3 separate regions of the Homo sapiens genome follow, and all the other regions are linked to region 2. Evidence: fine-mapped expression QTL. A gene starts in region 2. Each other region holds a variant in brackets. All regions are shown on one strand. Distances are between the middles of the regions. Region 1 overlaps ABCC1 (ATP binding cassette subfamily C member 1 (ABCC1 blood group)). Region 2 holds the start of ABCC1 (ATP binding cassette subfamily C member 1 (ABCC1 blood group)). Region 3 overlaps ABCC1 (ATP binding cassette subfamily C member 1 (ABCC1 blood group)).

Region 1 (2,663 bases), 81 kb after region 2:
ACCATGAGCTCTTTTTCTTTTCTTTTTATTTATTTTTGAGACAGGGTCTCACTATTACCCAGGCTGGAGTGCGATGGCACAATCTCAGCTTGCTGCAACCTCTGCCTCCCGGGTTCAAGCCATTCTCGTGCCTCAGCCTCTTGAGTAGCTGGGACTACAGGCACGTGCCACCATGTCCGGCCAATTTTTATATTTTTTGTAGAGACAGGGTCTTGCCATGTTGCCCAGACTGGTCTCGAACTCCTGAACTCAAAGCAGTTCTCCCGCCTCAGCCTCCCAAAGTGTTGGGGTTACAAGTGTGAGCCACTGCGCCCAGCTGCCATGAGCTCTTTACCATGCATTGCATAGGTGAACGTTTTAATATGTATCTCTGAAGGACATGGATTTGTTTATTTTAAATGACTTTTTATTTCGCAATAGTTTGGCTCACAAAAAGTTGCAAAAATAACAGAGTTCCTGTTGTTCATTGCTCAACTTTCTCTAATGATAACATCTGAAAGATAAGAATTTTAAAAACTGTAACTGTTGGGCTGCATGTGATGGCTCATGCCTGTAATTCCAGCACTTTGGGAAGCTGAGGCAGGAGGATCACTTAAGCCCAGGAGTTTGAGACCAGCCTGATCAATATAGGTAGACCTTGTCTTGACAAAAAACATGTATATGTGACTGTAATACTAACTTTAATAATAATTCATTATTATCAAATATTCCAGTAATCCATTGTGTTTGTACAATGGCTCATTCTTCTATGATATCATTCTTTATGTTTTAGCTGGGATTTTTTTATGGAAAAGAGTTTCCCCTTCATTTCTTTGATCACTGATCACTCTGTGGTGATCGAATAAATGACTGTTTTCCTCAGGGAAGCCTTCTCCAACCCTGGTGAACCAAATGAGTACATTTGGGAAAGGTGGAGAAAATACTTGTTTCTTTCCGCTTTTTCTGCGTTCAAACAATGACCTGGTTCACTGACAACATCAGATGTTTCTCTTTATTTCCAGCGTCAATATGAAATTTGTGTACATAAACATGTAAGGCTGGGCGCAGTGGCTCAAGCCTGTAATCCCACCACTTTGGGAAGCCACGGTGGGCAGATCACTTGAGTCAGGAGTTCGAGACCAGCCTGTTCACCAACATGGTGAAACCCCATCTCTACTAAAGATACAAACATTAGCCCAGTGTGGTGGCTGATGCTTGTAATCCCAGCTACTTAGGAGGCCGAGGCGGGAGGATCACTTGAACCCAGGAGGCGGAGTTTGCAGTGAGCCAAGATCACGCCACTGGACTCCAGCCTGGGCGACAGAGC[A/G]AGACTCCATCTCAAAAAACAAAACAAAACAAAAACCTTGCTTGGTATGTTTCAGCCTGTTGTACTTATTCTCCTTGTCAAAGCTCAAATTGTCCCTCTTTTAGCCTGCAGCGGCCACTTCTGCTTGGCTCTTGAGCCTTTTAACAATCCTGTTCATGCTTAGTTTCCTTGTTGTCCGGTGTGACAAGATGTTCTTGGCTTACCTTGCATATTTCCTGCCCAGCCACTTTTCCAAGAAAAATCTGGAAGTTTAAAACAAAAACAAAGCTTCAGTGCCCCAGTCGCACCCAGAACCAGCTTAATCAGATTGCCTGGTGCGGGTAGGGCCCGGATACAGTATTTTTTTAAATTTTATTTTTATTTTGTTTGAGACAGGGTCCCTAGGCTGGAGTGTAGTGGCACGATCTCAGCTTACTGCAACCTCCGCCTCATGGATTCAAGCAATTCTGCCTCAGCCTCCCGAGTAGCTGAGCTTGCAGGCACCCACCACCACATCCAGCTAATTTTTTGTATTTTTGGTAGAGACGAGGTTTCATCATGTTGCCTAGGCTGGTCTCGAACTCCTGACCACAAGTGATCTGCCCGCCTTGGCCTCCCAAAGTACTGGGATTACAGGCATGAGCCACCACACCCAGCCAGGATACAGTATTTTTTAAAAAGCACGCCCAGCCTTGAATGGAAAACCACTGGACGAGAGTATGCCACCTTATCGGGCTCTGTAAATGCCTTATATCTGCACAAGGCTGGAACTTTGAGTGGAGTCCTTGGCTAAAGCTTTCATTACTGCCTGGTGACCTCTCTTCCCTCTGCTGCTAAAGCTTGTGTTTCAGAATTTAGACCCGGATGCATCCATGTTGAAAGCCAGGCTTTGTCTGTCATCCCAGGAGCTCTGTATCGGTCCCTTTCCTTGCCTGCATGTTGTTGACTTGGGGCTCATCTTCATTTCTCTGGGAAATGAGTTCTTTGATAGCTTGCTTAGAATCTCTCAGTACTTCCCATTGCCCTTAGAATGAAGACCAAAATATGTGGCCTGCAGTGTAGACTGTGCACAGCCTCCAGTGTAGACTACTCAGGCCCCTTCTTGGTTCCTGGAGTCTACCATGCTTTCTTCTACCACCGGGCCTTTGCACACACTGCTGTCTGTTGGGAATGCGTTGCCTTTCCTTGTTACTTAGTTCTCATCTACTCACCCTTCAGGTGCCAGCTTGACTGTCTGCCTCGGGGGCGCCTTCTCTGACCTTCGTACACCAGATCAGCCCCCATGCACTTACTTTGTCTCATTGGTAATATTTCTCTCCCTTCAGGACACACATCAAGGCCCAGAAGTTGTAGTTTTGCATTTGTTCATGTGATCATT
Region 2 (2,661 bases):
TGGGGATAATACTACTTCTTACCTCATGGGGTTGTGAGGATTGCACAAGTTAATTTGTGTAAATTGCTAAGAACACAGCCTTAGGAAGCCTTGTCACTGTGAATGCATATTAATTTTTTTTATTATTATTTTTTGAGACAGAGTCTTGCTCTGTTGCCCAGGCTGGAGTGCAGTGGTGTGATCTAAGCTCATTTCAACCTCCGCCTCCCAGGTTCAAGTGATTCTCCTGTTTCAGCTTCTCAAGTAGCTGGGACTACAGGTGCCCGCCACCATGCCCGGCTAATTTTTGTGTTTTTAGTAGAGACAGGGTTTTGCTATGTTGGCTAGGCTGGTCTTGAACTCCTGACCTTATGTGATCGGCCCGCCTCGGCTTCCCAAAGTGCTTGATTACAAGCACGAGCCACCATGCCTGGCCTACGATTATCATGTCTCCAGGCTTCAGTTTCCTTACCTCTGAGGTGAGGATCAATAACCTGGTTATTTCTAAGTGATGCTTAAAGAGGTTGAGAAGAAGCAAAGGCGCTCTGCACACAGGTGAGGTCAACAGCTGTTAGTGATGGAGACTGGCGCCGTCTGGGTCATCAGTGCTCCGGAATCAGGCTGCTCACGGGTTTGAATCTCACTTCCACTTTCACTCCTTATTAACTGTGTGACCTCGGGCAAGTCACTTCGCCTTTCTGAACCTCAGTTTCCCCATCTGTAAAAGGTAGGTGAATAACAGTATTCACCTCCTTCTGTGTGACTCAGCTTTGGAGTCAGCGGACCGGGTTCAAATCCCAGCCCTGCAAGTGATTAGCCAGGTGACCCTGGGCAGAGGGAATCACTCAACCTCTCTGCACCTGGGTTTCTTCCTTCATGAACGTGGAGACTTTACAGGATGAAATGAGGGCACAGTTAAGGCGCCCGGTACACTCCAGGCAGGTAGGGGGCTCCGTTCACGTTATTTTCCCCTGGTGACGGATACTGTCCTTAAACAGCATTTGAAAAGTGGTCGCAGGGTGTGTGGCCCCAAAGATCCCAGGCGCTTCCGGAAGGCGAGCCAACGCTCCCCAGGCCCGTCCGCGAGCGGGTGGGCCTAAGCCTTGGAGGATCTGGGGTGGGGGTGGCGCGGGGTCCAGGCCCGGGGCGCCGAGAGGTGGCTGGTCCGGCTGCCCACGCCGAGACGCGCGAGGTGAGCGGGCGCCGGGGCGGGGCGGGGTGGGGCGGGGCCGCCGCATCCCCGTGACGCGCGGGCCAACCAGGCGGCGTTGCGGCCCCGGCCCCGGCTCCCTGCGCCGCCGCCGCCGCCGCCGCCAGCGCTAGCGCCAGCAGCCGGGCCCGATCACCCGCCGCCCGGTGCCCGCCGCCGCCCGCGCCAGCAACCGGGCCCGATCACCCGCCGCCCGGTGCCCGCCGCCGCCCGCGCCACCGGCATGGCGCTCCGGGGCTTCTGCAGCGCCGATGGCTCCGACCCGCTCTGGGTACGTGCCGGGGGCCGCGTGAGGCCGGCGGGACGGAGGGAGGCCGGCGGGGAGGGAAAGCACCGGGCCCGCAGCCGCCCGGGGCACCCCGCTCCCCGCTCTGCTGCCGGCCTCGGGGGCCCGGGACCCTCACGTCGCCCGCGGCCCAGCCCCTTTCGGGGGTGCAAGGCATGGGGGAAACTTGGGTGACTCAGTTCCTGCGGAGCAGAGCGTGGGGGGCCGCGTGCCCAGCCCTGGGGTTTTGGAGGGTCGGGTCGGGTCAGAGCCGCCGTGAGGAGGCCTTCCTGTTTTGGGGTTCCCGTCTGTAAAAACAACCTTCCAGGGAAGGGGACGCTAGAGATGGGGGGCGGGAAGAGGGGTGTCTCTCTGCTTCTGTTTTCCCATCTTTTTTGTGGTTAGGGTCCCCCCTTTTCACGAAAAATACTCCGTGACCAACGGGGTGAGCTGGGGAGGGGCTTAGATTGTAGAAAGGGACTTTCATTGTCTCCCCAAAGTTGTCGTACAAGCCACATTACTCTTCTGTGGTTACCTAGCTTTGTTTTTTTTGTTCTTTCTACTTAGATACTGCGGGGGAAGTTTGGGGGAACCAGGGAAGAAGGGGGATGTCCACCCTTGATGTGCCCTACCTGACCCTCGGCTCGGGGCAGACTTGGGGTGCAGCTGAGGACGCCCAGGACCCTGGTAGCTGTGGTCCTGCCCTCCCTTCCCTGCAACACGTGGAGCTCCTCTCTGGGGATGCCCCTTAGATTTAACCCCGGCAAGTTTTCTTCTGTAACGTGGCCTGCGGAGCCTGACTGGGTGTCTGGAGTCCACTTGCTGTGGTTTAAGCCCCAGTCTTTTGGGCTTCAGCTTCTCCGTAATGCGATTTGCCTCTTTGTTCCAGGAAGGCAGGCACTTCTGTCTCGTGCTGTCTTGATTGTTGGTGAACGCAGTAGGCAAATCTGGACACGACTGTTTCTCTCTCCTCTTTTGTTTAGGAATCAGGAGAAACAGCCTTGGTTCTTAGGAGCTGGTGATCAGCTTCCAAAAATACTTTCTTGTCCTGTTTTGCCGGCCTTTCCTCGAGGGTTGCATTTGGAGTGTTGAAAAGTCATCCTCCAGGGCCCCATTGGAGGGTTTGGTTTTGTTTGTTTGTTTTTTTTAGTAGGGTATCATTGTGTTTAATAACCTACCACACTTTGATATATCTCCCATTTTAAGC
Region 3 (2,663 bases), 57 kb after region 2:
TTGCCAGGCTGGAGTGCAGTGGCATGATATTGGCTCACTGCAACCTCCGCCTCCTGGGTTCAAGTGATTCCCCTGCCTCAGCCTCCCAAGTAGCTGAGACTACAGGCATGCGCCACCATGCCTGGCTAGTTTTTTGTACTTTAGTAGAGATGAGGTTTTACCATGTTGGCCAGGATGGTCTTGATCTCCTGACCTCGTGATCCTCCTGCCTCGGCCTCCCAAAGTGCTGGGATGACAGGCGTGAGCCACTGCGCCCAGAAGATTTTCTGATTTTTAAAGTTATGCCAGAGACCGGGCGTGGTGGCTCACGCCTGTCATTCCAACACTTTGGGAGACTGAGGTTGGCAGATCACCTGAGGTTTAGGACTTCGAGACTAGACTGGCCAATATGGTAAAACCTTGTCTTTACTAAAAATTCAAAAAAAATTAGCCAAGCGGGGTGACCGCAGTCCCAGCTATTTAGGAGGTTGAGGCAGGAGAATCACTTGAACCCGGGAAGCAGAGATTGCAGTGAGCCGAGATCGCTTGAACCCGAGAAGCAGAGATTGCAGTGAGCTGAGATCATGCCACTGCATTCCAGTCTGGGTGACAAAGCAAGACTCTGTCAAGAAAAAAAAAAATAAAAATAAAAAGCCGGAAATCAAATTTTAAATGTTGGGATCTAATCTAATTTTTTTAAAAACAAAAAGTATGCCTAAAACAACAGCAATAACAACAAGCCATCTATGGGCCAAACTGTGGGTGGGGAAACCTATTTTGTACTTCTTATTTTATCCGATTGAATTGTGGTGGAGATAGGAAATTGAGACCCCAAAAAGGGTAGTAAGTTTTCCCAAAGTTATTTAGTCAGTTGCCAGATTATGGCTTGAATTAAATTTAAATTCTTCAGCTGGGCATGGTGGTGCACACCTGTAGTATAGCTGCTTGGGAGGCAGAGGTGGGAGGACTGCTTGAGCCCAAAAGTTCAAGGCACAGGAAGCTGTGATCTTACCACCACACTTCAGCCTGGGCAACAGAGCAAGACCTCATTTCAAAAAAAGAAAAAAAAAAGAAAAATTTAAATTCTTCATTACAGAACAGCTGATGGTGGAGGTTTATTCTTGGGCAGGTACATCTGATCTATTTATGTATGTATCTATGAATTTGTCTATTTGGCATGGCTCTTTAGCAAAATACAGGCTTTTTTTTTTTAAGTAAAAGTAATTGAAACAAAATTTGTTTCCAAGGCTGGACAGCTCAGTGGCAAAATGCAGACTTGAACAACATTGCCCGAGTTTGAATTCAGCTCCAGAGCTTACCAGCTGTGTGATACTGGACACAGTATTTAACCCTTCTGTGCCTGAGTTTCACATCTGAAAAAGGAGATGATAAAAATAATTACAGAATGAAAGGAGATAATACACATGAGGTACTTAGAATAAAGCCTGGCATACAGAACTGCAGTTTGGTTGTTATCCGTGGTGGTGGCGGTGGCGGTGGCGGTGGCGGTGGCGGTGATGGTGGTGGTGATGGTGGCGATGGTGATG[ATGATGGTGG/A]TGATGGTGGTGATGGTGTTGGCAGTGATATTGGTGGTGGTGATGGTCATAGTGGGGAAGGTGATGATGATGAATGAAGATGATTAGAAAGTCCTCAGTTCACAAGGTCAGAGTGATCTAGATGACACAGGGCTCTTCGGTTATAAGAGAATATCCTTCAGGGTTCCTTTAAATGGCTCTCTCCATCTTTCGTACTACAGTGGGACTTGCCACAGGTTCTGGGGACTGTTAATGTGAGATGAGATGCTACATACCTTTTTGTTGTTGGTGGGTTTTTTTGTGTGTATGCACTGTTGTGTGTGTGTGTGTGTGTGTGTGTGTGTGAGAGACAGGGTCTCGCTCTGTTGCCCAGGGTGTAGTACAGTGGCATGATCTCAGCTCGTTGCAACTTCCGCCTTCCAGGCTCAGGCACTCCTCCCACTTCAGCCGCCTGAGTGGCTGGGAATACAGGCACGCTCCATGCTCAGCCACTTTTTGTGTTTTTCATAGAGGCAGCATCTCACTATCTTGCCTAGGCTGGTCTCGAACTCCCAGCCTAAAGTGGTCTGCCCACTTGGCCTCCCAAAGTGCTGGGATTACAGGCATGAGCCACTGCACCTGACCTGTATGCTCCTGTTAAGAGAGCTTTATTTTTATTTATTTATTTTGAGACAGGGTCTCTGTTGCTCAGGTGGGAGTGCAGAAGACACCACATACCTTTATCCCTTGTTCCTCATTTCTTAGTCTTTCTGGCTACTGATCTTTTTAGTTTGCGTGTTCATCCTGAAAGGTCCTTGGATATATAGGAGCCTTGTCTGTTTCTTCAAACCCCGTGGCAGCTGGTTTCATGCTCCAGGCGAGCTCCTGTCCTCTGGGGTGTGTCCTGCTGACCCCTCGCCTGTGTTTGTGTTCGCAGGACTGGAATGTCACGTGGAATACCAGCAACCCCGACTTCACCAAGTGCTTTCAGAACACGGTCCTCGTGTGGGTGCCTTGTTTTTACCTCTGGGCCTGTTTCCCCTTCTACTTCCTCTATCTCTCCCGACATGACCGAGGCTACATTCAGATGACACCTCTCAACAAAACCAAAACTGTAAGTCACTGGGGGGTTTCGTTGTGGGGGGTGGGAAGGTGCACCTGGACGGGGAG

Evidence for each region.
Region 1: its variant is fine-mapped to the expression of ABCC1 in whole blood (TOPMed, PIP 0.99).
Region 3: its variant is fine-mapped to the expression of ABCC1 in whole blood (TOPMed, PIP above 0.99).

The regions. Positions count from the first base shown.
Region 1 is chr16:16,029,206-16,031,868 of GRCh38, forward strand. The region is part of intron 5 of ABCC1 (ATP binding cassette subfamily C member 1 (ABCC1 blood group)); the gene reads left to right. Among named protein-coding and RNA genes, the nearest start is that of ABCC1, 81 kb to the left of the region's middle. The variant A/G (reference allele first, on the strand shown) is at 1,307.
Region 2 is chr16:15,948,340-15,951,000 of GRCh38, forward strand. It overlaps ABCC1 (ATP binding cassette subfamily C member 1 (ABCC1 blood group)), which reads left to right and starts at 1,277. Exons shown (of 31, transcript NM_004996.4): 1 at 1,277-1,460. The coding sequence starts at 1,413. LOC107984869 (a long non-coding RNA gene) reads right to left here and starts at 832. Exons shown (of 3, transcript XR_001752339.2): 1 at 452-832.
Region 3 is chr16:16,005,386-16,008,048 of GRCh38, forward strand. ABCC1 (ATP binding cassette subfamily C member 1 (ABCC1 blood group)) reads left to right here. Exons shown (of 31, transcript NM_004996.4): 2 at 2,431-2,607. Among named protein-coding and RNA genes, the nearest start is that of ABCC1, 57 kb to the left of the region's middle. The variant ATGATGGTGG/A (reference allele first, on the strand shown) is at 1,527.